Linked DNA regions of Homo sapiens. The protein of the gene in region 2 interacts with the protein of the main gene of each other region in a pairwise test. Each region holds a gene or a part of one and is shown on either strand. Other genes may lie near its edges.

What was found.
Region 1: the proteins of TRPV2 (region 2) and ARL15 interact in a protein complementation assay, tested with the Homo sapiens proteins (one study listed by IntAct).
Region 3: the proteins of TRPV2 (region 2) and KCNJ10 interact in a protein complementation assay, tested with the Homo sapiens proteins (one study listed by IntAct).
Region 4: the proteins of TRPV2 (region 2) and OPALIN interact in a protein complementation assay, tested with the Homo sapiens proteins (one study listed by IntAct).

What each region holds. Positions count from the first base shown.
Region 1 is NC_000005.10:54,307,558-54,315,058, reverse strand, and holds the start of ARL15 (ADP-ribosylation factor-like protein 15), read left to right. Parts: upstream 1-4,485; 5' UTR 4,486-4,579; coding exon 4,580-4,627; exon of another isoform or gene 4,628-4,649; coding exon of another isoform or gene 4,650-4,764; intron 4,765-7,112; coding exon of another isoform or gene 7,113-7,171; intron 7,172-7,501.
Region 2 is NC_000017.11:16,418,571-16,425,594, reverse strand, and holds part of TRPV2 (transient receptor potential cation channel subfamily V member 2), read right to left. Parts: intron 5,481-7,024; coding exon 5,347-5,480; intron 2,997-5,346; coding exon 2,706-2,996; intron 2,127-2,705; coding exon 1,828-2,126; intron 1-1,827. UniProt on the Homo sapiens protein: Calcium-permeable, non-selective cation channel with an outward rectification. Seems to be regulated, at least in part, by IGF1, PDGF and neuropeptide head activator. May transduce physical stimuli in mast cells.
Region 3 is NC_000001.11:160,067,154-160,074,099, forward strand, and holds the start of KCNJ10 (ATP-sensitive inward rectifier potassium channel 10), read right to left. Parts: upstream 3,008-6,946; 5' UTR 2,869-3,007; intron 1-2,868. UniProt on the Homo sapiens protein: May be responsible for potassium buffering action of glial cells in the brain. Inward rectifier potassium channels are characterized by a greater tendency to allow potassium to flow into the cell rather than out of it.
Region 4 is NC_000010.11:96,355,988-96,363,026, forward strand, and holds the start of OPALIN (opalin), read right to left. Parts: upstream 3,016-7,039; 5' UTR 2,910-3,015; coding exon 2,907-2,909; intron 1,173-2,906; exon of another isoform or gene 923-1,172; intron 1-922. UniProt on the Homo sapiens protein: Central nervous system-specific myelin protein that increase myelin genes expression during oligodendrocyte differentiation. Promotes oligodendrocyte terminal differentiation.

The DNA.
Region 1 (7,501 bases), on a different chromosome or scaffold from region 2:
GGCTTGATTCCATTTATGAATCAAGCTCTGTTAGCGGCTTCATGTGGGGACACCCTGTTCTGATGAAGTTCATCTTCTGGGACACAGTGATACTTCATTTAGGTTTAGGAAGCAGAGAAGAGGACTGGGGTAAATCAGAGGTGGGTGTCAAGGTATCCACTGGAGAGAAAGGGAAAAAGGACTCAGAAGAGAATTTTAAAGTCACAGGAGTTATTGGATGTGGTAAGTGAGAAAAAGTGCCTGATGACCTCTGCAGAGCTGACCACTTTTTCTGAAAAAGAAGTGTCCATGATTTAAGAGTCATTATAATGAAAGATACCATCTTTCAGCTATTAAGGAATAATATTAAGGCAAAGATGAGACAAGATAATCATTCCCTACTTTGGAGCTGGGGGGTAGAAGGAAGAAGACTACATAAGCTAGGTCAAAACTGAGTATTAAAAGTGCTCAGCTGGGCGTGATAGCTCACGCCTGTAATCCCAGCACTTTGGGAGGCTGAGGCAGGCGGATCACGAGGTCAGGAGATCAAGACCATCCTGGCCAACATGGTGAAACCCCGTCTCTACTAAAAAAAGATACAAAATTAGCTGGGTGTGGTCACGTGTGCCTGTAGTCCCAGCTACTCAGGAGGCTGAGGGAGGAGAATCACTTGAACCCGGGAGGCGGAAGTTGCAGTGAGCCAAGATTGTGCCACTGCACTCCAGCCTGGCAACAGAGCGAGACTCCATCTCAAAAAAAAAAAAAAAAAAAGAAAAGAAGTGCTCATACTCTTTGTACCAGTAATTCTATTACTAGAAATTATTCTTAGGATAATAAGATGTGGATAGTTTTATAAGCAAACATTCACTGTAATATTTATAATAGTAGTAACTAATAAAGGATTTGTTAACACAGTAGTACATTTTTACAATAGTTTTATGTATCCATTAAAGATTTATGAAAAGTTTCAGTGAGATAGTGTATGCATGATACAAAACTAGTGAAGGCAGTATTCTCCTTGGAAACAACAAAAGAATAGCTGGAAATAACCACTAATATGTTGATTTTTCTGGAAAGTTGGGAGACCAAGTTGCAAAAATGCATTTCTGTTTTCATTCCTTGCAAGTGACAGTTTAACAAAAAATTTTCCTCCAAATTTGGCTAGCCAGCAGCCTTTATGGAATTTTAGAGTATGGACTGTCAAAATAATTTCTCTTTGCTTTTGACAAGCAACAGTGATGGCCTCTGTATTAGTCTGTTTTCACGCTGTTGATAAAGACATACCTGAACCTGGGCAATTTAGAAAAGAAAGAGGTTTAATGGACTTACAGTTCCACATGGCTGGGGATGCCTCATGATCATGGCAGAAGGTGAAGCAGGAGCAAAGACATGTCTTACATGGCGGCAGGCAAGAGAGAATGAGAGCTTGTGCAGGGAAATTCCTCCTAATAAAACCATCAGATCTCATGAGACTTACCACTATCATGAGGACAGCATGGGAAAGACTCGCCCCCTTGACTCAACTTCCTCCCACCGGGTCCCTCCCACAACACGTGGGAATTCAAGATGAGATCTGGGTGGGGTCACAGCCAAACCGTATCAGCCTCTTTCCTCAAAACCTATGCACTAATGCAATTGCCTCATGAGTTTACATGTTTCTTCCGCATCTGGAAGAGGGTCATTCTTTTCACTGACAGCAAGGGCAGAACTAGGTTAATGAGATCATGTCTTGTTCTGGATTGCAGTCTGTTACTTGGCATACAGTATGGTAGGTTGATTAAATGCATTCTAACTTCTCTACACTCTTTTAAAAAGCATGTATTGAGGTGATTACCTCAATAGGTGCTACCAACCCTATCAGCTATGACTGCAGCTTCATGTAGTGGGTAGTGTATTATCTGTTCATACCAATTCAGTCAAGTTAGCCTCTTTCCTCTGTAGGGGCGGACTCACTGACATCTCAGAAAACATCTAATTGAAAAAATGTGCTCCATATGGAGTTCAAAATCTACAGGTTGTTGTTGTTGTTTTATAAGGACTCTTTCCTAAAATGCAATATGTGATTTTTTAATACATTACACTGACTACAAGGTTTTCATTGATGCCAGTCACAATGAATGTGCAAATTGTGTGGAATAAAGTGAATATTATGGTGCAGTCTTTGGAACTTTTCCTTGAACATATTCTTTCATCTCCCTGCTTTGGCCCCATATACTAATTCTTAGAGGCAGCAAGAACCATACTGACCCTAATGACATGTTCAGGACTATCTTTCCCTAAGCTTAACTTTTAAAGGAAAGGCAGAAGCCACCTGCTTCTGAGTGGCTATCCTCCTCTGCATAGAGACTGATAGGCCTCTCGAAAGCCTGACTGGGCAGTAGCCCACACATCATTTATCACTAAGACAATGGTCCATAAGGTGTCTCTTTGCTAACTCAAGCCCTTTATCTTATTTTAAATATGCTTATTCACGAAGAAAAGCAAAACAAACAAAAAATGTTCCATGACTATTTCTGCTCATTGAGAGATTTTGTTTTCCAAATTAGTTTCAAACAAATTGTGCTAAAGAGTGTACGTTTATGGACGTCCATCTCCTCCAAAATCTAGGTGAAAATCTCTTCTAAACCTACATGTGTTTGAATTAACAGAATGCCAAGGAAAATCAAAATTGGATCTAATAGCACTTTGGGAGGCCGAGGTGGGCGGATTGCTTGAGTCCAGGAGTTAGAAACAGGCCTGGGCAACATAGTGAGACCTTGTCTTTACCCTTAAAATACAAAAAATTAGACGAGCGTAGTCGTGCACACCTGTGGTCCCAGCGACTCTGCAGGCTGAGGTGGGAGGATGCTTGAGCCGGCGAGGCGGAGGTTGCAGCGAGCCGAGATCGCGCCACTGCACTCCAGCCTGGGCGACAGAGAGAATCCCTGTCTCAAAAAAACAAAAACAACTTCCCCAACCCCGCCCCCCGCCCAAACCCTCACAACTTTCTGGCTGTAGGAATTCTCGTTTTGCAGCTGAGGAAACAGGTTTGGAAATTAGACTGCATACCTAAAATCACTTGGCTCATCAACCTACAGCTCCCTCTAGGGGGCTGCCTCGCCCTTATTGGTTATGTGCACATTTGGGGTGAATTCCACGGTCATCTAACAGAACTGTTTTGGTAGTCCCAGGTAAACTTACGGTACGGAAATTTGTTTCTTGAGGATACAAAAAAGAAAGGTGTCAGGGGGAAAGTAAAAATTCAACTCCTAAAACATCGCGTGTAGAGTCAGGCAGTCACTTCATAAAGAGTTCAGTCGATGAAGTTTCACTCTTGAAACTTTACTGTATGTATGCAAGCCCTAACTATTAATACAGGTGACAGCATCCACCTTATCTTCCATTCTCCCTAAGCCCTGAGGGTGGGGATGGGGGGGGGGGCACTCCAATCACCTGAGCCTAAGAACATAGCCTAAGAACATGTGTCTGGCATGGTCTGGTTATTTATAGCCTAAAAAAAAAAAAAGCCAGCTTCTTGTCCGATTCAGGCTTTCCCTGCCCAAACCCACTAGCTTAATGCGATATTGACATTACCAGGAAATGCATACGTCCCAAATGCATCTGCTTATAGATGTTTTTACCTCCTGAAATAATACCGGGTCACAAATACTGTTGTGTTTTTTGCAGAGAGCTTCTACTGCTCATTTAATTCAGGGGCGTTGGATTTGTGCTGAGCGTAATTTGACTCCAAGCATGCAAACTGATCAACTTCTTCCCGTGTGTTTGGGGAGTACAAGTGACTACTGCGACTCCTCAAATGTTTTTCTTTTCCTTTTCACGTGGAGGAAAGCGAATTCTCCGAAGACTGTTCGGCGTTCTACGCAGGGGTTGGAAGGGGGGTTCCTGAGTCACCTCTGGCTGCGCGGGGGGCCTGTGTGTACCCTCAGGGACACCAGGCTGGAATCGTCCACCTTACTTTCAAATGATAAAAGTGCGGAGGGTCTTTCTGCCCCTAAGTCGCGTACAGGATTGCCTGTTTACGGAGTACACTTTCACACACTTCTTTCCCGGTGGTGCAGTCTCGTGGCGGCAGAGCCTTTAGGAAGGCTCTGGGGGGAGACAAGATCAGTGGCGACCACGCCTCCCATGTTACAGCGCTCGCTTCCTACTGGGGGTTGGCGGGGACACCAAGGCTCTCCAGCCCGGGAACACGGAGTTCGGCTCCGTTGTACCCAACTGGAAAGCTGTGGAAACACAAAACTCGGGCGGCGACAGCACCAGCCGATTTTCCGCTCTCTTGGCTCTTTCTTCCGCTTGCACCGCCCCCACCCCGGCTCCTCCGCTCAGCACACAGGAACCCACATCCCCCACCACTCCCGCGTTTCTCTCCTGCCACCAGCTGGGGCCTGCCTTTTATAGGCGCCGCAGCCAATGAGCACGCTTCTTTCCTTCTGCCCGCCCGCCTGGCCAATCGCCGCGCCCCTTGTGTAATCTCCGGCTAGTCGGCTGCTTTCGGCTATTTTCGCTGTTGCTGGCTTTTTCAGGAGCTGCTCGCTCGCAGCCAGAGACGCTGCTTTTTTTTTCCGGGTTCGGAGCCGTTCCGGATGCTTTAGGCTGCCGGATGTCTGATCTCCGAATAACTGAGGCGTTTCTGTACATGGATTATCTGGTAGGTGCAGGGCAGGGGTGGCATGTCGCCTCTCGGATCTCGGCGTGCCCGATGGCCCCCTGCCTTGAGGAGCAGCCTTTTTGCTTTCTTTCTTTGGGATAGGATGCCTCTGGGGTTCTTTCTCCCGCAGCCGGCTGGTAAGCCTTTCCCTGGACTCGGAGGGGCAGCCTCCAGGGCGGGTGGGTGGTGGAGCTGACAGGTAAAGGTGCGGCCTGGGCCAGCACGGCTGCAGGGCGAGGGTCGCGCTGGGGCTGCTTGAGAGATGGGGCGGCCGCGGCGGCGCGTCCCCTGCCCGCGATCGGCTTCCTGGCTTCCCTCTGCGCTCTCCGCAGAGGACTTTCTTTCCGGGGGAGCAGGAGTTTTCCTCTCTCCCTGGAGCAGAACTCCAGGTGCTATTAAAGAGCCATAACCAGAATGGCTCACTAAGTGCCCAGCAGCCCTGGTCATTTGATTGTTATTAAATCTCTAAAGCTATGACCTCGGTCGTGGCGGGGTTTTAAAAGCACATTACCATAAAGCAGACGGGTCTAAACTACCTCGCAGGCTGGCACGAACAGGACTGAGTAGGGACAGGTATAGCCCCACCATTCCGGTCTTGGGTGCGTGCCGCGGTTCCACTGTGCACGGATTGGAACCCGGCTGTTTAGGCCAGGCTTGTGCTGAGAAGTTTAGGTGGGAAAAGTGTCAGCACAGTGCTGGGACCGAACATCATTTTAAAAATGGACTTCTATGTGTCTTTGTGGAATTATGCGAGCACCATGTTTTGTTCCAGAAATTATATTTCCCCAGAGTTGCTTGTTTGCGTTTAAGGGGATCCTCATTTACAGAGACTTGTGTTCGATCCTATACGATTATTGTGTTTACCATGTTGGGCAGAACCGCTATTGCCATGCAGAGTTGAAGTAGACGGTTAGAAACATTGACCCTCCTGTCATCTTGTTGGACACATGCACTCGGTTTTCGACTGCAGATTGGCCTGGCAGAGATTTGCCAGTGCCTTCTAGGAATTACACTTAAGGCTGTACTGAGAAAGTCTGTGCATGCTTTGATGGCCAAGAAACGCCGGACCGGCTTTGTGCTGTTATCTGTGTATTTGGGCTTATTTTAGTGTACATAAAGAAAATGTTTCTCCTAATGCTTCAGAGCTTGATGGTCTTGTGGGAAAGGATGGTGACTGCAGTTAATGCATAGCCTTGTGAATGGAGCTGGATCTAAAATTCTGAATTCAAGTTCTGTTTTGTTGTTCATTTGTTGATGGCAGTAACTTCCTTTATCTTTGTGATAAAGGGATATTATTCACCCAGTACTGTAGCTGGTTACGGGGATTATCTGATTATGAACATTCTTCACAATACAAGGTGCCCTGTAAGTTAAGAGAGCTGCCAGAAGATTATTTTCTAAGTTAAATAACTGATTTAATTTGTAATTTATCTTATAAAATACAATACATGGTTTTTGTCTTGCAGTCTGCCTAAATTAAAGCGAAAGTTTGTTGGGATAATTACCAAGTAGGAAAGGGTGACATTGCCTGTACTACTAAAAGCTAATTTTGAATACTTAAATAGTTCTTAAAAAAGAAAATCAGGTGGTTCTGACATTTTATTATTTTCTTTATTTACCGGATGTGTTTTAAATTTATAAATTGCATCACAAAGCTGTCTTTGAGGTGCCAAACCTATCAAAATGCTTAGTGAAAACAAAATTGATAACTCTGGTTAATTACTCAGGCTAACCTCTAGATAGGCATAGTCTAAAGGTGAGTGGATGAATGTTTGTGGGCCCAAGGTTACCTTAAAAGCAGATTAATTTATTTGCCAATTTACTAACAGCTTTGTGTCAAAATCAACAGGTCACAAATTTGACTTGGCCTTTTTGTTTTACCTGGGCTCAAGTTTACCCTAAAAGCAGATTAATTTCTTTGCCAATTTACTAACAGCTTTGTGTCAAAATCAGCAGGCCTCAAATTTGACTTGGCTTTTTAAAAAGCTTTACTTGCCATACATCTTAGTTTTACTTTTATATTTAAAAAAAATCATTATTTTGCCACTTTATCCATCTAAAATTCACAAGTGCAGTGACCAACCCCATAAAAGCCAGTGGCTACTCTTTGGAGGTGAGAAAAGAAATCTTAAAGGAAACAGTTTAGTTTTTGTGAGTGTGCCAAGTGTCCCCTGTGAAAAGATTTCAGAAAATTCTTTAGCATTAAACTGGATGGAAACAAACAGAAAAACCATCTCAAAACAAAAAACTAGCCCTCCCGAGGTAGCCTTTTTGTGTTCACCTTTTGCTTGTCGACTTTCAGAGAAAATGATGTGCCACACATTATTTTTCTCTTCCTGTCTTTCGGATTGACTTGCTTGCTTATGCATACTCTGTGTGGCGTTTATTAAAAGCCCTATTTCTGAGGAATAGAAATCAATTTATTTGCATCTGGTATCTTATTTTATTTTTAAAAAATTCCTGAGTTCTTTTACTTACCTTGCAGGGAAAAAAAATGCTCCTTTCATTCCAAGTTTGACTCCAGATTTTGCTGAATGGATTAGAGTAAGTTCCCTTTCCATGCACTGACAAGAATGATGGTGTGTGTCATTTCTTTTTAATCAGTATTTGACTTTCTTGTGTTGTTCCTGTTGGAAACTGGAAGAGAGAGCTGTGTGTGTGTATGTATCTATTGTTCATTGTTCTTTGGGCTGGATGTCGTCACTTAACCTTTTTATTTGGAGGAGAGTGGAAAGGAAGAAGGGAGAGAAAGGTGGAGGTGCTATTTTGTCTTAACAGGATTAATCCTTTTAATAAGATTGAGATATTAAAACAGATGAAGAAGCTCTACTGATCTTCGGGTCGCTGTTGATTTCTTAAAACAAATGTTCTCAG
Region 2 (7,024 bases):
AGGTTCACACACCCCAGGGAGCACTCCAAAAAACTTGGGAGGGCAGCGAAAAAGGGTTAAAACTTCTATTTATGTTTATCGTTTCCTTAATCTTTCAAAAATCTCCACTGTAAGCCCATGAGGCCAGCCCTGGTGAGCTATTGGCAAAAGCTATTTGGAACAGGCCATTGGTAAGCTATCTGGAACAAAGTGGGGGCTGCCTCATGTTTACTCTTCCTACCAGAATAACTTCCAGCTAGTCAAAGCTCTAGGCATTAAAAATGCAGCTGCAGGCTGGGCGTTTCGGCTCATGCCTGTAATCTCAGCACTTTGGGAGGCTGAGGCAGGTGGATCACCAGAGGTCGGGAGTTTGAGACCAGCCTGACCAACATGGAGAAACCCCGTCTCTACTAAAAATACAAAATTAGCCGGGCGTGGTGGCACATGCCTGTAATCCCAGCTACTCGGGAGGCTGAGGCAAGAGAATCGCTTGAACTCCGGAGGCGGAGGTTGCAGTTAGCCGAGATCGCGCCATTGTACTCCAGCCTGGGCAACAAGAGCGAAACTCCATCTCAAAAAAAAAAAAAAAAAAATGCAGCTGCAAAAGTTTGGAAGAAAATATGGGTATGAAGATTATATATATACTATATATAATTATAATGTATAATATAATGTATAATAGTTATAACATATATTATGTACATATAATATGTATTATATATATAAAATCTTGTAGCAGGAATTAGACAATAGCAAAACCATGGAACCTTAAAGGAAAAGATAGTCACACTTGCAGATTATAAAAATTTTTAAATCCTGTATAGCAAAAAAAACATAAAATTCAAAAGACAAATGATGAACTAGGAGAAATTTTACAAGTGCTATGGTAGACAAAATACTAAATTCATTATAAAGTTATCAATAAATATGCAGAAACAGAATAGCAAAATAGGCAAAAGATATAAAAAGGCTATCTCTTAATAAAGAAACACAAACGACTTTTAAAAATTCCCAATGTTTGGCCGGGTGCCATGGCTCACACCTGTAATCCCAGCACTTTGGGAGGCCGAGGTGGGCAGATCACCTGAGGTCAGGAGTTCAAGACCAGCCTGGCCAACATGGTGAAACCCCATCTCTACTAAAAATACAAAAAATTAGCTGGGTGCAGTGGCGCGTGCCTGTAATCCCAGCACTTTGGGAGGCCGAAGCGGGTGGATCACGAGGTCAGGAGTTCAAGACCAGCCTGACCAACATGGTGAAACCCCTCTTTACTGAAAATACAAAAAAAAAATTAGCCAGGCATGGTGGTGGGTGCCTGTAATCCCAGCTACTCAGGGGGCTGAGGCAGGAGAATTGCTTGAACCTGGGAGGCAGAGGTTGCAGTGAGCCGAGATCATGTCACTGCACTCCAGCCTGGGTGACAGAGCGAGGGTCCGTCTCAAAAAAAAAAAAAACAAAATTAGCTGGGTGTGGTGGCACATGCCTGTAATCCCAGCTACTTGGGAGGCTGAGGCAGGAGAATCGCTTGAACCTGGGAAGCAGAGGTTGCGGTGAGCCGAGGTCGCACCATTGCACTCCAGCCTGGGCAACAAGAGCGAAACACCGTCTCAAAAAAAAAAAATCTCAATGTTTTATAATGTAATATATTCAGTAGTTCATATGCAATTTATAAATAAACAGAAATATATCAGAGGTACATACTGAAAATTTTCTTACTAACAGGAGTGTTCCATTGAAAAGCAGAGAAGCCACTGCTCTTCACCACCCCCTGGGTTCTTTCTGCAGAAATTTTGGGATGAGACCTACTGCTTCCTGGAGAGGGGAAGTGGGAAGGGGACAGCCGCTCACCTCGATCTTGCCCTCCTTGGCGGCCAGCTTCAGAGGCGTGAGATCCTGCAGGTTGCGGATGTCCTCAAGCTGCACGGTAGGGCAGAGGCGGGCCCCAGCTTGGAGGAGCCCATCATACATGCTGGTCACCAGTGCAATGTTCTCAGCTGAGTTGTCCGAGATCATCACTAGGGCATGCAGGACTGTGTTGCCCTGGGAGTCAGTGGCCTGCAGGCTGGCGGGCTGGTGTGGGTTCTCCAGGAGGTAGCTTACCACATCCCACTGCTTGGTGCAAGCGGCCAAAGAGAGGGGTAGCTCACCTGCAGGCCAAGAGAGCAGCTTGGGCCCCAGGCCTCCTGCTTTCCATCTGCCTACTCCTCATGCTCCTTGGACAAAAGGCCAGCCCTCCTTGAAACAGGTCAGGCTTCTTTACCACTGAAGGGAGCAGAACAGGGGCCAGCCAACCTGCTGCCTTTTGCTGTCTTCTTTGCCAGAGCCCAGGCATGCTGCCTCTTTATTCAGGCTCTGCCTGGCCAAGTCACATGCCAGTGCTAGCAGCCCCTATTTCTTTCCCTGGGTCTGGGTCTGGGTGCATGCCCGTCTTCTGGCCAGACGAGGATGAAACATCTCTTATGACAAATTAATGCTGGATGTGGTGGCACACACTTGTAGCCCCAGCTCGAGAAGCTAAGGCAGGAGGATTGTTAGAACCCAGGAGTTTGAGGCTGGCCTGGACAAAAGACAAACTGCTTTTGCAGGCAGCCTAGTGGTTAGAAGCAGGGCATCGGGGTCAGAAAAACCTAGGTTTAACTGCCAGCTCTGTCATACACTAACCATGTGACCTTGAACCAGGCCTTACTCTCTCTTTGCCTCGATTTATCCAAGAAAGGCTCACTCACCGAAATAAAAGCAAGTCCCTTGGCCCTTCTGGAAGAAGCGGCCGCAGGCCCGGGCATGCACATTGGCCCCATTCTCCACCAGGAGCTTCACACACTGCAGACTCCTCTTCTCAATGGCGATGTGCAGAGCGCTGTGGCCTCGGTAATAGTCATCTGTGCACTGGGCATTTACCAGGGGCTGAGGATTGCCAGAGTCCCTGTCGATCTGCAGCAGTGGCAGAATGCAGGCATTGACTCCGTCCTTAAGGTTCAGCACAGCCTTCATCAGGCACGTCTTACCTGTGGAGCCCTCTGTGGGAAGAAGGGAGGGGAAGGGGCACAGTGGTGCTGAGACCTGGAGTGGCTGGGCTGCCCGATAGCTCTTATAAGCCCAGCTCAAAGTACCCCTTGGGAGGATTAAAAGAGATGCTACACATAACTGGTGGGAGCACAACCATGTTATAGGCTATTAAGGCTCCAAGTAACAGATAAGAAATACCAACAGACATGACTACAATTTCTGCCCTAGAAACGAAATTTCTTTTTTTTTCTTTTTCTTTTCTTTTCTTTTCTTTTTTTTTTTTTTTTGAGACAGAGTCTTGCTCTGTCACCCAGGCTGGAGTGCAGTGGCGCAATCTTGGCTCACTGCAAGCTCTGCCTCCCAGGTTCACGCCGTTTTCCTGCCTCAGCCTCCCCAGCAGCTGGGACCACAGGCGCACACCGCCACACCCGGCTAATTTTTTTTGTTGTTTTGTTTTGTTTTTTGTTTTCAGCAGAGACGGGTTTTACCGTGTTAGCCAGGATGGTCTCGATCTCCTGATCTCATGATCTGCCCACCTCGGCCTCCCAAAGTGCTGGGATTACAGGCGTGAGCCACTGCGCCCGGCTTAGAAACTAAATTTCTAAGACATAAGTCATCATTCGTGAAATGCTGTCTACAGCAGAACATTCAGAGCAGTATTTGTACATGACTCCACCACTTAATGTCTCTATCTCCTCTGGCAAGTCACGTGGCCTCTCTTAATCTCAGTTTTCGTTACTGTAAAATGGGAATGTTCCAGGATTATTGTAAGGTTCAAAGGGAATAATATAAGGCCAGGCGCAGTGGCTCACGCCTGTAATCCCAACACTTTGGGAGGCCAAGGTGGGCAGATCACGAGGTCGAGTTCCAGACCAGCCTGACCAACATGGTGAAATCCCATCTTTACTAAAAATACAAAAATTAGCCAGGCGCAGTGCTGGGCGCCTGTAATCCCAGCTACTCGGGAGGCTGAGGCAGGAGAATTGCTTGGACCCGGGAGGCAGAGGTTGCAGTGAGCTGAGATCACGCCACTGCACTCCAGCCTGGGTGACAGAGCAAGACTCCGTCTCGGAAAAAAAAAAAAAAAAAATGGCCAGGCGCGGTGGCTCACGCCTGTAATCCCAGCATTTTTGGTAGGCCAAGGCGGGCGGATCACGAAGTCAGGAGATTGAGACCATCCTGGCTAAAACGGTGAAACCCTGTCTCTACTAAAAAAATACAAAAAATTAGCCAGGTGTGGTGGCTGGTGCCTGTAATCCCAGCTGCTCGGGAGGCTGAGGCTGAGGCAGGAGAATGGCATGAGCCCGGGAGGTGGAGTTTTGCAGTGAACTGAGATCGCACCACTGTACTCCAGGCTGGGCAACAGAGCAAGACTCCGTCTCCAAAAAAAAAAAGGGGAATAATATAAACAAAGTGGATAGCACACAGAGGGCCTGGCACACAGCTAGTTGAAGCCAAAAACTACGAACAACCTAAAATGGCCATCGATAAGTAAGGAATTGGTTAACTAAATGATGATAAGGACACAAGGGAAAACTCACTCTGCAGTTGTCAAAGTGACTAAGTTAGACATGTACTGAAATGGAAAGTGCTACAAGATGTATTAAGTGGAGGAAAAGCACGTTACAAATTAGTATATGTGTCAAGACCCCATTTATGTAAATATATACTGATGTATTAAGAAAGTCTGGATAGGCCCTGCGCGGTGGCTCACACCTGTAATCCCAGCACTCTGGGGGGCCAAGGTGGAAGGATCACTGGAGCCCAGGAGTTTGAGGCCAGCCTGGGCAACATGGCAAAACCCCATCTCTCCAAAAATAAAAAAGAAGAAAGAAAGAAAGTCTGAACAGATGCATTCTCAAACAATTAATTGGAGCCCAGGATGAGAGACTGTGTTTACCCTTGGCTCTATATGTTTCCTTACTGTTTGAATCTTCTAGAGTACTCATGTTATTTTTCTGATCAGCCCAAACAATACAGATATTTAGATTTTGGGCAAAGAGTGCTTTGAGATGGGTTAAGTATATGGTATGTGCATTATATATTATATCTCAACAACACTGTTATTAAAAAAGATAAAAAAAGATTGCTTTGGGTTTCCATTCAGCCACTGCAATGGGCTAGGGGTGACAGAGGTAGCCAGGAGGCCTGAGGGGTGGGTGGAAGTGGGAGGCACAGCCAAGACTGACAGGAGGCCATCCTTGATTAACTCTGTCCACAGGGCCCCCCAGCCATCCTTCCAGTGGGAGGGCTGCTGAGAACACTCACTCCTCAGCTCCTGACCAGGGATCAAGCCCACACAGCCCACCTAACTATCAGCTCACAGGATGCCTAGCCTTGGATCCACAGGGCAGGGTCTACCTGTGTATTCCGAGTCGGTGAGGTACTTGCTGGTCTTGCTCAGGTACTCTGGAAGTCCAGCCAGATCCTCGGGGACACCCCGGGAGACCGCATTGAAGAGCCGATCTCGGTCAAATCGGTTTGGATCCGGCTGACTGTGGAGGATGTGGTTTGTGACTCATGCTGGAGAAGAACCACAGGCCCCCCCAAAAGCCCTCCATCCCAGGGAGCCCTTTCAGGGAGTCCTGTACACACTGCACACCCCTCAGGCCCAGGAGCCCAGTGAGAGCCCTTCTGAGGGCCTCTATCCTCCTAGAGCCATCCTAGGGGACCCCGGGAGGAGGAAAAGGGGCCTGTCCAGGCACTAAGCTGCTTCATCCCCATGACGCCAGTCATCACAGACACTTTTCAGCATCAGGTGCTTGTCATGTGCCAGGTGCCTTGATGTACCATCTCTCAACAGCCTCGATATCCCACTGGGTCCCCTTCAGCACACACCACTTGTGGTGGCTCTTGAGCTTGGGGCTGGATCTGGATAGGGCTGTGGGAGGTCCCCGCAGACTCACAGTGGCTGCATGCATCACTGCCTTCAAAGAAAGTATGCAGAAAATCTCCCTTCTCCTCTTAGAAACCATCTATTAACTACAGAATATTCTGTGCCTTTCATCTTCACTTCAGCCCTGCTGGTCAGAAACTACTCATTTCTCCATTAGATAAACAAGGAGGTCATGTAACTTGCCAAAGTCACACAGCGCCAAACTGGGAATCTCAGCAGGGCTGTTTAACTTTAGACCCTGACTCTGAATCCCCAGAGAGATTCTAGGCTTGGCAGCAAGAAATTTCCCAGAAACAGAGCATTACCTGGGCCCAACGCTGGGCCCAATGTTGAAACATATCAGACACCACCAAGAAGGCACACCTAATGAGAAATCTCTCCCACAGACCCCGGAAGGGATCTGGTAGCTTGTCAGAATCTAGAATCTAGCAGCGTCTGGTGACTGGAAGTGGGAAGGGCATGAGTCATTCCCTCCTGGGCTGTGTTACTAATCACAGGGGCCAACTTGCCTCTGGGGCTTCTGGTACCACCACCAGCAGATATGCGAAGACAAAGAACAGGGGGTGCTATTTGATGATTTGTAGACCCTCAGGTCCCAGCTTAATGTCTCTTGTGGAATGGGTCAACCAAGTAAAGGTTGGTGACAAGGTGATTGTTGGGATCCGTCACTTTTTTTTTTTTTTTGGAGACAGAGTCACACTGACACCCAGGCTGGAGTATGGTGGCATAATCTCTGCTCACTGCAACCTCTGCCTCCTTGAATCAGGTGGGGATTTCAAGGGTAGACTTTTTAAGCCAACAGCTATGACTGTAATTACAGCCAGCCCTCCTTTGTCAGCACCAGGAAGCCACACATGACCATGAGGGCTCTATCTGCTGCTGACAGGAGCCCTGTGGACAGTCTGGCTGGCAGAAGTGGCCATTTGGACAAAGAACTTTCTGTCACCAGGGTGGCATCATGGTCCTGGGGTAGGGAAGCCCATTGAGGGCACAGATTGAGGTACTGAAAGCATCAAGGGCCCGTCCTGCCTGTGTCGGGCAGGCTCCACAGCTCCCAGAATCTCCTCATGCATCCTCCCCTACCCTGGTGCTGAATCTGACCACTGTCCTCCAGCACAAACAGGAAGCAGCTCTAGCCTGCGA
Region 3 (6,946 bases), on a different chromosome or scaffold from region 2:
ATTCCAGAGCCAGCCCCTCCCTTCCCCCACCACCTCAAATCCAGGCTCCAAGCTGGCAAACACCCACGGGAGGGCATTTCCCACAATCCCTTTCTCTTTGCCCTTTCAAGGTTCTGATGGGGGAGGGGAGGAAGAGGGGCCACCAGATGCACTCTCTCCCTAAAGAATGGTGGCAAACATGTAGGCTAAACTCAAATGAGGGAAGAAAAGCATTGAACTCAGCCTGCTGGAGAGACCGAAGTGACATGGCAAACTCCCATTCCCAGGAGCTGCCCAGCCAACCACCCACCATTGGGTGCTAAAACACTTAGATTTTAAATCTCCCTTTCCTCTCCAATCTTTCTGTAGTTTCATCTCAACGATGTGCCTTGGCTGATTCCTTCTCTGCCCCCTTCCAGGGCCCCACTGCTATCCTGGACAGCTTGGCCTCAGCCTGGACAGTAGCACTGACCAGTCAGGCAAGAGAAGAATCTAGGCCGAGGAGGGGAGGGAGAGTGGAGGTTTTTTTCTTCCGTCCTAAATAACCTGTGGCTGGAAAGCTTAGGGACTCCATTGCCCAATGTCTCTTTTCCTCCCCACCAATGCCAGGAGGCTCGGCCTATCTTTCCATCTTGTGTGCAGAAACCAAGAGTTTTACCAGGAGGCTCAGGAGTATCCTTTGAGGAAACAGATCTTTCTGCATGACCCACCCCCTAGAGCTTTAAACCCCCTATCCTGCCAATCACAGAATGACTCCAGAGGACTTCATCTGAGCCCACCGTGATCCAAGTGTCCCAGCCTCTCTGGTCCCAAGGAAGGTCAAGGGAAGGAAGGTCCCCGGGTCCTCTGCCAGTCACTTCCTTGTAGCTCAAGCCAACCAAGCTGGAGCTGTAAATGAGCTTATGCACAGTGATGCAGGTGGGAGGGAGCTAGAATGTGGTTCAATGGGGCACACGGAGGAGGTAGGGGATACCAGCGGGCAGATCATTAATCCCCTCACACAAACATATGCACCCATAGACTGGATGTGGGTCAGATGTTGGGGAAGATGGATTTATTTTTTCCTCAGGGTAAGGGATAGCAGAGGGGTTCTGCATTAGAGCCACAGAGGGGCTGGAACCATAACCCTGCTACCCCTGCCACTCCCACTCCCCACCCACCCTCCATCGGTGGAGTCATTGCCATTTGATATCCGCTGAGACAACTTGGCTGCTCAGGCTCTGAGTGGGGGGTGGGGGGATGGCTCAGAAAACAGCAGCTCCTTTCAGGACCCAGGTTGGCAAGGGCTTTGGGAGGCTGGACCAGCCCAGATCACCCCCCAACACCCTCTCCCTCCCTTCCTCCCTTGCCACCACCACCAAAGGACTGGGGGAAGGCAGCGGGGAAAGGAGTTGGCACTGCCTGGGCCGTGCCTATTGCCTCCACAATCCAGCCCTGGACCCTCTCCCTGGCATGATGCCTTCCATCCCCCTCCTCCCTCGTTTCTTCCTCCCTGAAGAACCAGCTATGAGTCAGGATGCCTGGTTCCTTCCAAACTTGGTCCCCTATACCCAGTCTACCCCCAGAGAAATTTACAAGCCCTACCACTTGGCACAGGATGGTACCCACCATCATGCCAGGAATATGTTCAAAAATCCTTGGAGATTAGGGAGAGAGTTTCAGGATGAAACTAAATTGAACTCACTGGTGGCTGCCCACCCCTCCTGGGGCTAATTTCATGACAACCACTCCAGGCCCTCCTCAGCACCCTTAAACAAGGCCATCTCTCACATGGGGGCCCTAAATCTCCTGTCATTATCTCCCTCCCACCCAGGCAGCCTAAAGCAGTCCCAGTGGGGAGAAAAAAAATTCAAACACCACAGCAAGAGCAGACTGGCCAGACATCTTTAGTCAGAATTTGTATTGGTAAGCAACAGAAGCAGGCTTTAAGCACTGGCCTCTTTGGGGTCCAAATCTGCACCAGCTTCTTCCCCATCTGCCTCACCCTGCCTGGGGCACTCACTGGAATTAAACTTCAAGACACCAGAACCCACCCTCACTTTTTCCCAGTGTTGTCCTTCTACCCATTCCTGGGTTCAGCTCTCCTCCCCCAAATCAGGAAGTTCCATCCTTCATCTGTTCCCTAACACAGGTGCCCTGGGTTAGTTCTGATGAGAGGAGGAATGGAATGGGAAGGGGCGTCTCCATCTGGAGGGTGAGTTTATAGAACCCAATCTGCCCTTCTCACTCTAGCAGAAGTGGCCCTGCTCCTTTCCTTCTGGAAATCCCAGTGCGAAACAGCTGGGGTGAGGGTGAGGGGCCATGAGGAGGGATGTCTTAAAATGGGAGCCACTCAGAATAGAAGGAAGAGATTGGGTGGGCAGGGGTCTGGAGCACACCAGGCTTTGGTGGCTCCCCGGTTTAAGCTGCCAGTATCTGTTTTTCTCCCCATGTGGGAACTAGCGATCATGGGTGTCACTATGTGATTGTCACTGTATGGGGAGTGGGGGAGGGGCTGGGGATGGGAGTAACCTGTCCATATGGGGAGGAGGGCGCACTGTCTGTTGTGCCTGTGTATGGGGTGCCTGGTTATGTGTGGTTGTCACTGTATTAACTAGAGGAGCAGGGATGCAACTGCTGGTCTGCCCAGTGGGAGGGGGCATCGGGAAAGCCCCTTCCTTAGATGAAAGGGCTGAGGTGACCAGCCTGGCTAGTTTCCTCGTGGGGAGCCCTTCCCAGGAGGCTCCATTTGGGACTGCCCAAGGCGGGAGGCAGGGGAACAAGACGGTGGTACCGCTGAGGCCAGGCAGGGTAGGGACTGAGGATCTGGGACCCCGATGTCTCTGGAGAGTTAGGGGGACAGGACCCGGCCGGGGCGGCAGAACTCCTTCATCAGGGCCAGGGTCTTACCTTGGGTCCGAGGTGGAGTGGCCCCTTGGATGGGCCGCGGGGCAGCGGGACAGATGGACGGACGGGGCGGGCAGGAGTTAGGAGCAGAGCTGTGCGACGGGCCGGGCCAGGACTCTTAAACCCGGAGCTGGGATCAGATAAGGGCTTGTCCGGGGGCCGGGGCCGGGGTCGGGCCGGCCGGGGGCAGAGCTGGGCCGGGCCGGGCCGCCCCCTCCCTCCGCAGCGCCGGAGCCAAACTTTGTGTGAATGGAGGGGCCCGGAGGGGGGCCGGGCAGGCGGGGGCGGGGGGCTCCGAACAGACCAATGGGAGAGTGGAGCGCCAGGCTCGAGCCGCCGAGATTGGAGGGTCTTGGGCAGGGGGCGGGGCGTGCGGGGCAAGGAAGCGGAGACCCAGACAGCTGCAGGCGCAGAGAGAAATATCCAAAGACAGAGACCCAGACAGACCCGGGGAGAAAGAGAGATGAAGAGACGATATGCGAAACGATAGGAGCTGAGCTGGCAGGGTGACAGGGGAAGGGAGAAGGAAGAAAAGGGAGGCGGTCCTGTCAGCGATGGGTTACGAGAGCTGGAGCCGGGGGGCGGGACTGGGACCGAGTTAACGAAGTGGAAATGAATTCAGGACCGGCCCAGTGGCCCTGCAGGCAGCGCCGAAGGCGGCGCCTGGAAGTGAGATTGGGGCGGAGTAGGCCTGGGCTCCCTGAGCCACAGGACTGTATCTTTGGGCACAATTCCCGTGTTGTTCACCGTCTCCTAAGTCCCCGGTGCGGTGCTGGGTGAGAGACGCGCAGCACACGGTGCCCACCTGCAGCGGCTTTCTCTGTAAGGAAAGATAAGGCCGGAACCCTCAGCGAAGTGCGGGAGGTACTGAAGGCTGTAAAAGGGAGAGGTCATTCTACTCAGAGGGCTCCTAGCAGATGTGGGAGGAAAGAGGTAACATCTGATTAGGGTCCCAAAGGAAGCAGAAGATTCAGGTGCTGAGAGATGGTCCCCAGGACTCTGTTGCATTTAAGGCAGAGGGAACAACGTAGCAGAGTCCTGGGGAGACGTGAAAATACAAGTTCACTTGGGAAACAGCATCAAACTGTCCCATTTACTAGATTAGAGTGCAGGGTGATGGTTCTCAACCCTTTCATCACCAAAGATTTCTTTAATTTTCTGAATCTATGTGTTGAGAGGTTTTAATTCACCCCCACCCCCAGCATTTATTTAAAAAGAATATAATTATTTCCTCATTTCTGATCATCATAAACATTTAACTGCTAATCAATAACCAGTGTTACCATATTGAATTGCTATAAATTCAGGTAAAAAAAGGAAAGAAACTAGGAATGTAGCTTAGTTTAACCACTAAAAGCCATAAGATAAGTAAATGTCCATTCAAATAGCCTCATTGGAGAAGCTGGAAGGACGGGACTAAAGGTTAGGCACCATAGGCAGTGTTTGTGTTAAGGGGAACATCCGGAAGAAACACAGAGTTGTGCTGATTTGTGGTCAGGCCAGAGTTTCTGTAGGCTACGGAGAGCAATTGAAGGTTCTTGGGAAGGATGGAGTAGGAGAAAGCTATGGCATTTTAGGAAAATTAATCGGGAGGTGACAAAATAGTTTGAACCAAGTGGATATAGTAGGCAAGTAGACGATAGAAAATAATTGCAATAATATAAGCATGAAGAGATGACAGCCCAAATCAGCGTGGCAATGGTGAAAAGTGGAACACAGAAAATGAATTGGAGTACAGAAAAATCAAAAGAAAATGAAAAAAGTTTGAAGCCAACTTGACATGTTGAGCAAAAGAGGGAAGCTTCAGAGATCATACTAGAGTCTCAAGTCAGGTGATCAGAACTGCGAGGTCATTCACGGGCATAGGGGAGCCTGGGGGGGATCACACCTGGTGAGGAGACTGAGGTGGGGGAAGAGGAAGTGATGAGTTCAGAGCTGGAAGCTGTGGAGAGGGGTCAGAACCAGAGAGAGAAAGGAGGTCATTGCTGCCAGGGCAGTGTGAGTTGAAGCTATGAGAACAGGGTAGATCCCAACAAAGACTGCACAGAGAAATGAGAGCCTGGCACAGAGAGTGAGGAACACCTATGTTTAGGGGATGGGAAGAAGAAGGACCCCCAAAGAGTGAAAGAGAATCCACCAGACAGGCAGGAAGGAGACAAAGAAAGTGAGATGTCATGGAGCTAAGGAAGGAGAGACTGTTAAGGAGGAGGTTCTAACAGTGCCAACAAGTACAGAGAGAAGAGGCATTGGGTTTGGCAGTGACAAAGTCTCTAGTGACATTTGAGAGCAATTTCAGAAGAGTGAGCAAGGTGGGAACCAGATTACAAGTTACCACTAGAAAGTGAGAAACTGTCAGCAAGTATAGGTTACACTTTTGAGAACTCTACTCATAGAGAGGAGAGAAATAGAAACCAGACAATGTACTAGAAACAGGCCAGGCCAGGTGGCTCATGCCTGTAATCCCAGCACTTTGGGAGGCCAAGGTGGGTGGATCACCTGAGGTCAGGAGTTTGAGACCAGCCTGGCCAACATGGCAAAAACCCATCTCTACTAAAAATACAAAAATTAGCCGGGCCTGGTGGCACGCGCCTGTAATCCCAGCTACTTGGGAGACTGAGGCATGTGAATCGCTTGAACCTGGGAGGCAGAGGTTGCAGTGAGCCGAGATCACGCCACTGCACTCCAGCCTGGGGGACAGAGCTAGACTCTGTCTCCAAAAACAAAACAAAACAAAACACAAAATAAAAAGAAAAAGAAACAGTCTTCCAGTTTTTCTTCTTCACACTCCGAATGCCCTCTCTTCCTAAGTCAATATGGATGAGGGGCTGTGGTGAGGTGGTCTGAGGGCCAGCCTGCAAGACTGGTATAAGACCTTTAAGTTTCAAAAAATAGGACATCCAAAAGATCCTTAAGGGGGCCACAGTCTTGACATTCACAGACAGAGAGGACTTAGGCAGGGGTGTCCAATTTTTTGGTTTCCCTGGGCCACATTGGAAGAAGAAGAATTGTCTTGGGCCACACATAAAATACACTAACACTAACAGTAGCTGATGAGCTTTAAAAAAAAAAAATCACAAAAAAAACCCTCATGATGTTTTAAGAAAGTTTACAAATTTGTGTTGGGCCTCATTCAAAGCTGTCCTGGGCTGCATGCAGCCCACAGGCGGTGGGTTGGACAAGCTTAGCTTGGAGGCTCTGGTGGAACTCCAAAATAAACATGAAGAACACCACAGAAGAGAAAGCAAAGGGACTGTAATGATTTATGGATCATTAACAGACATTTATTGTGCACTTATTATTTTTCCAAAAATGTTATCCATCCATTTAGCTTCAACTACCACCCATGTGTCAATATGTCCAGCCCACCCGGATATCCATTTCAAACTCAACATATTTAAAGTCGAACATGTCACCTTGCTCACAAGAGTGCTCCTCTCCATTTATTCTCTACCATGGTAGATACACTATCATCACCCAACCAGAAACATGGCAGCCATCCTAGATTCTTCAATCTTCCTCACCTCATCTCCCTTATTGAATCAATGCATCTGTATTCTAAATAGCCTCAATATTGTCCCCTTCCTCTCTATTCCACTATCATTGCTGTAGTCTAGGACACCATTACCTCTCACCAGGTAATAATAGTTTGGATCTTTGATCCTGCTCAAATTTCATGCTGGATTTTAATGCCAATGCTGGACATGGGCCTGGTGGGAGGTGTTTTGATCATGGGGGCAGGTCCCTCAGCGGCTTGGTGCTATCTTCATGATAGTGAGTTCTCGTGAGATCTGGGTGTTTAAAAGTATATGGCAACATCCCCCATCATCAACTCTCTCTTGCTCCTGCTTTTGCCATGTGATGTGCCTGCTCCTGCTTTGCCTTCCACCACAAGTAAAAGCTTCCTGAGGTCTCCTGAGAAGCTGAGCAGATGTCAGCACCATGCTTCCTGTAAATCCTGCAGAACTGTGTGCCAATTAAACCTTTTTTCTTTATAAATTACCCACTCTCTGGGTTTTTTTTTTTTTAATTTTTAATCTTTTTTTTTTTTTTGAGACAGGGTTTCACTCTGTCCCCTAGGCTG
Region 4 (7,039 bases), on a different chromosome or scaffold from region 2:
CCTGTCCCTAGCCCCTGTTACTCTAGCCTTTCCAGGCTGCTCCTTACCAAGTCCTTTCCCTACCTAGATTGGAATGATGGGTGGACCTGTTCTGACTCAGCCAGTGAAACTATTTTCCCCTCTTTCCCTGGGTGGAAGTGGTCTTGTTCCCACTTTCTGGACTCTCAGCCCCTTGGGTCCAGCCACCCTGGATTAATACCTCCTGGCTGGGCCCTCCTTCAGCCTCGGTCTCCCTGACCCCCAGATATTTCCCTGGGCTTGGTCTACACCACAGCTTCCCGTCTTTCCAGCATCCCAAGACCAGATTCTGTCATTGTAGAAACAATGCATTCATTAAGTTTTAAAATTAAATGTTATCCAACAATAGGAAAGTTGTGAAACATTAAAGAATCCAAAAGAATCATGTTTCACACCTGAATTACCTGAAAGATCATCTCTCTCAAAACCCTCATTTTCCAGCAGAGGAAACTGAAACCCAGGGACTTATCAGAAATCACCTCATGGACAAATGAGAACAGTTGGAGCCACATAGACCAGCCAATGGGCCGCAGTCTATGTGACTCAACCCCAACCCGAAAGATGGTAACAGAGGATCTCATCCCAACAGAAGCAAACTGACAAAACACCTATTTCAGCTGACTTACTGATGGATTGGAATTCAGATGGGTTAATGAACAAGAAAATCTTTTGTGAACCAGAAGTGTTTTAAGCACCTAGAATGTGTAAGTCCCCCTAGCTTTTGCCCCAAATATTATGTCCTTCAATCAACGTGGCCCTGCTCAACTAGCACGCTTCAGTGGTGCCTCTGCTCACTTCTCCCCCTCTTGGCAATAGGACACCCGCATTTTATAGAGAATAACCAAGCCTCAAGAATTTGAACAGGTTTCCCAAGTCCAAACAACTACTTAGCTGTCACCAGAACCTGAGTGTCCCGGTGACAACCTCTTTCCACCACTCTGCAAGGCTTCCAAGCAACTCCAGTAGTCTCTGTGGATGAATCAGAGCACCCAGGCTGACAGCACTGTGCACCTCTGCTTCTGGGATGACGGTGGAACACAGGGACGTCTGGGCCTCTTAGGTCAGGGTCCTCTTGCTCAAGGGACCTAACCACTGCTCTTCACGCTAGCACCAGACCAACACGTGCTGCAAGGACACTGGATGGTCGCTGCACTGAATGCAGCTGCCCAGAGCTTTATCTCATCAGTGGGCACTGAGGACTGATGTCAGCAGCCCTAAGACAAAGCTTCCTTTGGGAGGACAGTAGAAGAGGGGGTGCAGCAACAAGTGGGCCATTGCATGTGTTGTTTATCAACATTCGGATGACGGAGATTTTGGCCAATTTCAGAAAGACACTCATATTTTGTAGAAACACAGTACAGTGCTCTCATGGAGAGAAAAACATCGCACAAATTAGGGTGGAGAAGAATCTGATGCAGTGCCCTTCAGAGACACAGCTGAGTGGGATGATGCAACCCTGAGCTTGGAGCCACCTGATCTAAATTCGAGCCCACACTTAGCCACTTAGGAGCTGTGTAGTCTTGGATAAGTCACTCAAACCCTCTGGTCTCCATTTTCTCACAACAAATCTATTCTCCAAGGCTCAGTTTTCCCATTCTCAAAATGGGATACTATTAACTTGCCTTGCCCACTTCACAAGGGAATACCGTAATGTCATCTGTGGCAGCTCCTTTCTCCCAAACTGTAAAACACCCTCTGTGTTTTAGGGATCACGTGGTAGCATATTCTTTATGGCCTGGCCAGCACAGAGCTAAGGATAGGAAAGTTCTTGTGGAATGGAATTGCAAGCATGAGTTAGTGATAGTCAAAGTACTAGAATTGGATACAATGCAATTATTGCTTACTGCTAGTCTGAGCACTATGCAGTATCTACACAATGATTCTGAAGGCATTTTGGGATCTCAGTGGCTGAACGTCCTTCATTATAAGTTTGCAGTTTGTGAGAGGAAGGAGGAAGAGACAGGATAAAAACTTACTGCTGTTGAAGGTGTGCTGGGTATAAGACCCCATACTCACAACCTCCCCATGAAGGGAGCACTATTATTCCTATATTATACCTGTGGAAACTGAGACCAAGATAGGTTTTTGCTCACCAGCTTTTAAGTGGTAGAGATCAGGTTAGATCACAGATCTCCCTAACTCCACAGACTGAGCTCTACTCCTTTTAACAATGCTTTTTGTAAAAAAAAAAAAAAAAAAAAAAAAAAAAAATTCCACAAGAAAGTGAGATTACACAATATTCTTCTTTTTGTGTCTGGCTTATTTCACTTAGCATAATGTTCTCCAGGTCCAAATAGGACAAACATGGCAAATGGCAGGGTCTCCTCCTATTCTAAAGCTAATATTCAGTTGTATATATACATATAAACCACAGTCCCTTTATCCATTCATCCACTGATGGACACCTAGGCTGTTTCCATAATTCTTTAGTAAATCACAGAACCCTCTTGTTTTCTCTTCTAACTTAGCAAACTTCATTTGATTGAGTCACAACAAAATATTTATCACAAGTAAACAAGAAAGATGGAAAATTTCTGATCAATGATGACCATCCATGTTGCTGATGATGGAACAAAAAGCCAGATTAAACAAGTAAGACAGATAAAATCGTTGATTAGATCCATTGCTTCAACTAGAAAGGGAACATAGGTGAAACATCTACTCTGTACTCTTGTATGTGGGGTTTTAAAAACAAACCTTAATACCAAAATGAAAGACAAGATCAGCAAATATTAGGTGAGAAGTTTAAAAAATTATTGGTATTTTGCATATAGGAAAATAATTTAAAATAAAGTCCCTTTACTTCATTGTACATTTAATTGAATTTGGAGGTTTTTTATAGTAAGAAATGAAAGTTCGATTGAGAAGAGATGCCAGCTTTCACTCACCATTTCTGACAGTCTCCCAGGAACCTTCTTCGTACACTGCCTTTGGTAAGCTCCTTTCTCACTGGCTTTATTGGCTTGTGTCTTTCATTTGTAGGAACAGTTAACTGACAAAGCTGCAGAGGCAGGCTGAGAGGTGGCTCCAAGAGAACCCTGGCCAAGCCATTTATGGTCAGGGGAGTAGCCAAGCCCTCAGTCCATCCCTCGGGAAAGATGGGCTGCTGCTGCATGGCCGACGTGTATGGCCTGGTTCACCCACCCTCTTTGCCTTGATTTTCTGTCCTTACTTTTCAGGCTGCTTTCTTGGCTATACCTCCATCTCAGCAAAGAAGCCACAGCTGGCCTGAGAGCTTGGGGGCTTCTGCAGCCTGCAGCCCTTTGGAAACAATGGGTTACATGAGGCTGAGGCTGGCCACTCCATCCCCAGCTGACGGGAGTCCACATTAACCATGTTACTGATAATGATGGAGTCATTGTGTTACATGGACAACAGCATGGACATTCGGGATGTCTGGAGGAGGGGTGGGGGCCCATTCTGTTGCAGGAGTCACACTGCTGGGGGCTCCAGCTGCTGCAAGGTGCTGCACTCAGTGGCCAATGAGCTGCCTGGTGTGAGTTCAGCCTCACCCCCTCTCTGTTTTTGTATTTTGGGTGGGAAGCTCTCTAGACCTGGAGGAAGCCATGGACTTGGGCTGCTTTATAACTTACAATTTCCCTGTTAGGGATTTGCCTCTTTAAAATGGTGAATGAGTTGCTAATAAAACAACAGAATTAAACCAATAATTTGGCCATTGAAATGAAAACCACTGTGAGAGGAGCAGATAGGAGTGTAAGGAGAGAGCGACTCAAGTGACAGAGGAGGCCGTTGTTTAGATGACTCTGGGAGATGGCACTGAAGCTGTGCGTGAAAGATGAGAAGAGGGCAGACATGTGAAGGGTTGAGGGAGGAGAGTCCCAGGCAGAAGCCACAGCAAATGCTAAGCCCTGTAAGCTTGGTGCACTCCCAGAGCAGGCAGGAGGCCGGTTGGCTGGAACAACATAAACCAGGGAGTCACCCGGGAAGGGGCTAAGGACGGAGTGAGTTTGAGCCCTTTTGATGTGACATGGGAGGGCATGGTAAGATTTTCATCCTTAGATGAAACCTTTTCCAAGGGTTTTTCAGTGGGAGAGATGCATGATGTAATTGCTGGTGACGAGGATTGCTAGGGCTTCTCTGTGGAGCCAAGATTACAGGGGAAGAGAGTGGAAGCAGGTGGCTGGCTAGTGGAGTCCAGGTGAGCGATGAAGGTGGCTGCTGTAGGAAGACAGCAGTGAATGATTGTGCTCTCTACTGTGGAGGTGGAGCCACTGGGATTAAATGATGAAAAAAATATGGGGCGGGGAAGGGCGAGGTGAGGGAAAGAGAAGAATAAAGCCAACTCCTGGGTTTGAGGCTTGACTAACAAAAATGGAGATGCTATTAGCTTAGGCAGGTAATACTGGAGAAACAGATTGCCCTTACACCTGAGTAGCCTAGGGGCTGTCCAAGTGTGGGTGCCAAGTAGGCGACTGGATAAAGGGGATCTGGGGCTGAAGACATCCGTTTGGGAGTGGCCGGCCTGTGGATGGTTTTAAAGCCCCCGGTGTGCATGAGCAGGTAGACAGGGCAGAGGGCCAGGACAGCTGCCAGGGGTTCACAGACATTTAGCAGCCTGGAAGAGGGGGTGTCACTAGCAAGGAGAGTTGAGTGAGGCAGGAAAATCAGATAAGTTCGGGGGTCACAGGAAAGAAATTTGATTCAAGAAGGGGAGTAGATGTTGGTTAATTGTATCAACTGCTGCTGAGAGGTAGCCTCCGAAGAGGTCAGAAGAGCCTTCTGATTCCCAGTATCGGGGTTGCTGGTGGCCTTGACAAGAGCAGTTTAGTGGCACAGTGGAGACCAGATTGCCTTTAATCAGGTGGTTTTTCCATCCTGGTTGCATACCTGAATTACCTAGGGAGTGGTAGGGGGCTGGTTATAAAAACTCTTGATGCCTAGAACCTGCCCCCAGAGACTCTGACTTGATTGATCAGAGTGAGGCAGGGGCATCCCCAGGGGACGCTAACGAGCAGTCAGGGGTGACAGCTGCTGTTCTAATCAGTTCTTAGACTGTGGTAATCAGCCACCTGCAACATGGCCGACACTGATGCTATCCTAAACAAGACCAATGAGGCCTCTGCCTTGTGGGCTTCCAGTTTCCAAGACTCCACAGTGACAGCCTAAACTGAACCTACTGGTGACAACATGGTCTAGAGAGACCTCTGTTTAGAGCCACAGCTGCCCTACTGGAAGCTGCATGGTCTTAGGCAAGTGAAATAACTTCTTCCAGTCTGAGTCTTTTAATCTACAAAGCAGGGATGATACAATTTATGCAATTAGACTACTTGAATCAGCACAGCTCGTACAAATGATGCTTTTAATTTTCCTTGACTGGCGTAGAATCAACCTGGACCATAGAATTCCAGTTTATGGCCCCAGCACTCTCTGGCAAGGCTGTTTGTGGATGGGGAGGGCCACTGAGGTCCTTTTTGGCACTTTTGTTTGCTGTGCATCCACTGATCCATAACTCTGCCTTCTGATGGACACATTATCTCTTTAGAAGAATTGTTGACATCTTCAGGCAATTGGTACCCCTGCCTAAGTGTCCATCAGTCATGACTGCCCAGTCACAAGCATCAAAACCAGACTCTGCTTAATTTTTTGAAAAGGAAAATTTGGCCGGGCACAGTGGCTCACGCCTGTAATCCCAACACTTTGAGAGGCCTAGGCGGGTGGATCACCTGAGGTCAGGAGTTCGAGAACAGCCTGGCCAACATGGCGAAACCCCATCTCTACTAAAAATACAAAAATTATCTGGGCATGGTGGCACATGCCTGTAATCCCAGCTACTCGGGAGGCTGAGGCAGGAGAATCGCTTGAACCTGGGAGGCGGAGGTTGCAGTGAGCCAAGATCATGCCATTGCACTCCAGCCTGGGCGACAGAGCAAGACTCCATCTCAAAATACAATACAATACAATACAATACAATACAATACAATACAGTACAGTACAGTACAGTACAGTACAGTACAATACAATACAATACAATACAATACAATACAATACAATACAATACAATACAATACAGAAAAGGAGAACTTACTGACTGAGTATAGTGGAGCTCTCAGAAAGGACAGAGGGCTAGAGAACCAGGCTCTGGAAGGACAGAGTGAGGTTGCTCCCAAACCTTCAGCAGCAGCAACTCCCAGACGGTCTTTCAGAGGTGTCCTTCCAGGGAAACTGAGCTCCAAAATATCTCAGCCCTTTTGCCTCTCTGATCAGGACTCCAGTCCCAGGAAGAGGATTTGGTTGGTCTGGCTTGGTTCATATGGCCAAGGATGATGTACCACCTGGCTAACAGTCCCCCCAGTGAGGGTCCCTCCAATGGAAGAAGAGGTGGTTCTGCAAAATGAATTTGGCATTGTTACCTAAAGGAGAAGGAATGGATGAAGTGAGTAAGCTCTCCTTCTTTGGAAGTCGGGCCTGAGAATCATCTCCTTAGAAACCATAGATGGAATGCCCTTAGTGGGTGAAAGATTGGGGCCACCAACTCTGAGAATCTCGGATCATTTATATTTTGTCACCATTTAAATTTGTACAAGCCCAATCACATGGATGGTCTTCCCTGTAACAACCGGTCAGCTTAAAAAACTGGACCATTCTAAATGACAGGTGGCTGTCTTAGTCCATTTGGGACGCTAAAACAGAGCACCACAGACTGAGTGGCTTATAAGCAACAGAAAGTTATTTATCACAGTTCTGGGGGCTGGGAAGTCCAAGATCAAGGTGCCAGGAGATTCAGTGTCTGGTGAGGGCCTGCTTCCTGGTTCCTAGGCAGCTGTCCTCTCTCTGTGTCCTCACGTGGAGGCTGAGGGATCTCTCTGGAGCCTCATAACCTAATTACGTCCCAAAGCCCCCGCCTCTCAATACTATTACATGAGGGGCTGGGATTTCAATACATGAATTTTGTGGGTATACAAACATTGTTGCAGTGGCCTTGTTCTAATTTTTAGAAATCTTTATCTAAAATGTTAATAATAAGGTAGGGATAAAGTGAAATTTTAGAACAAACAGAAGA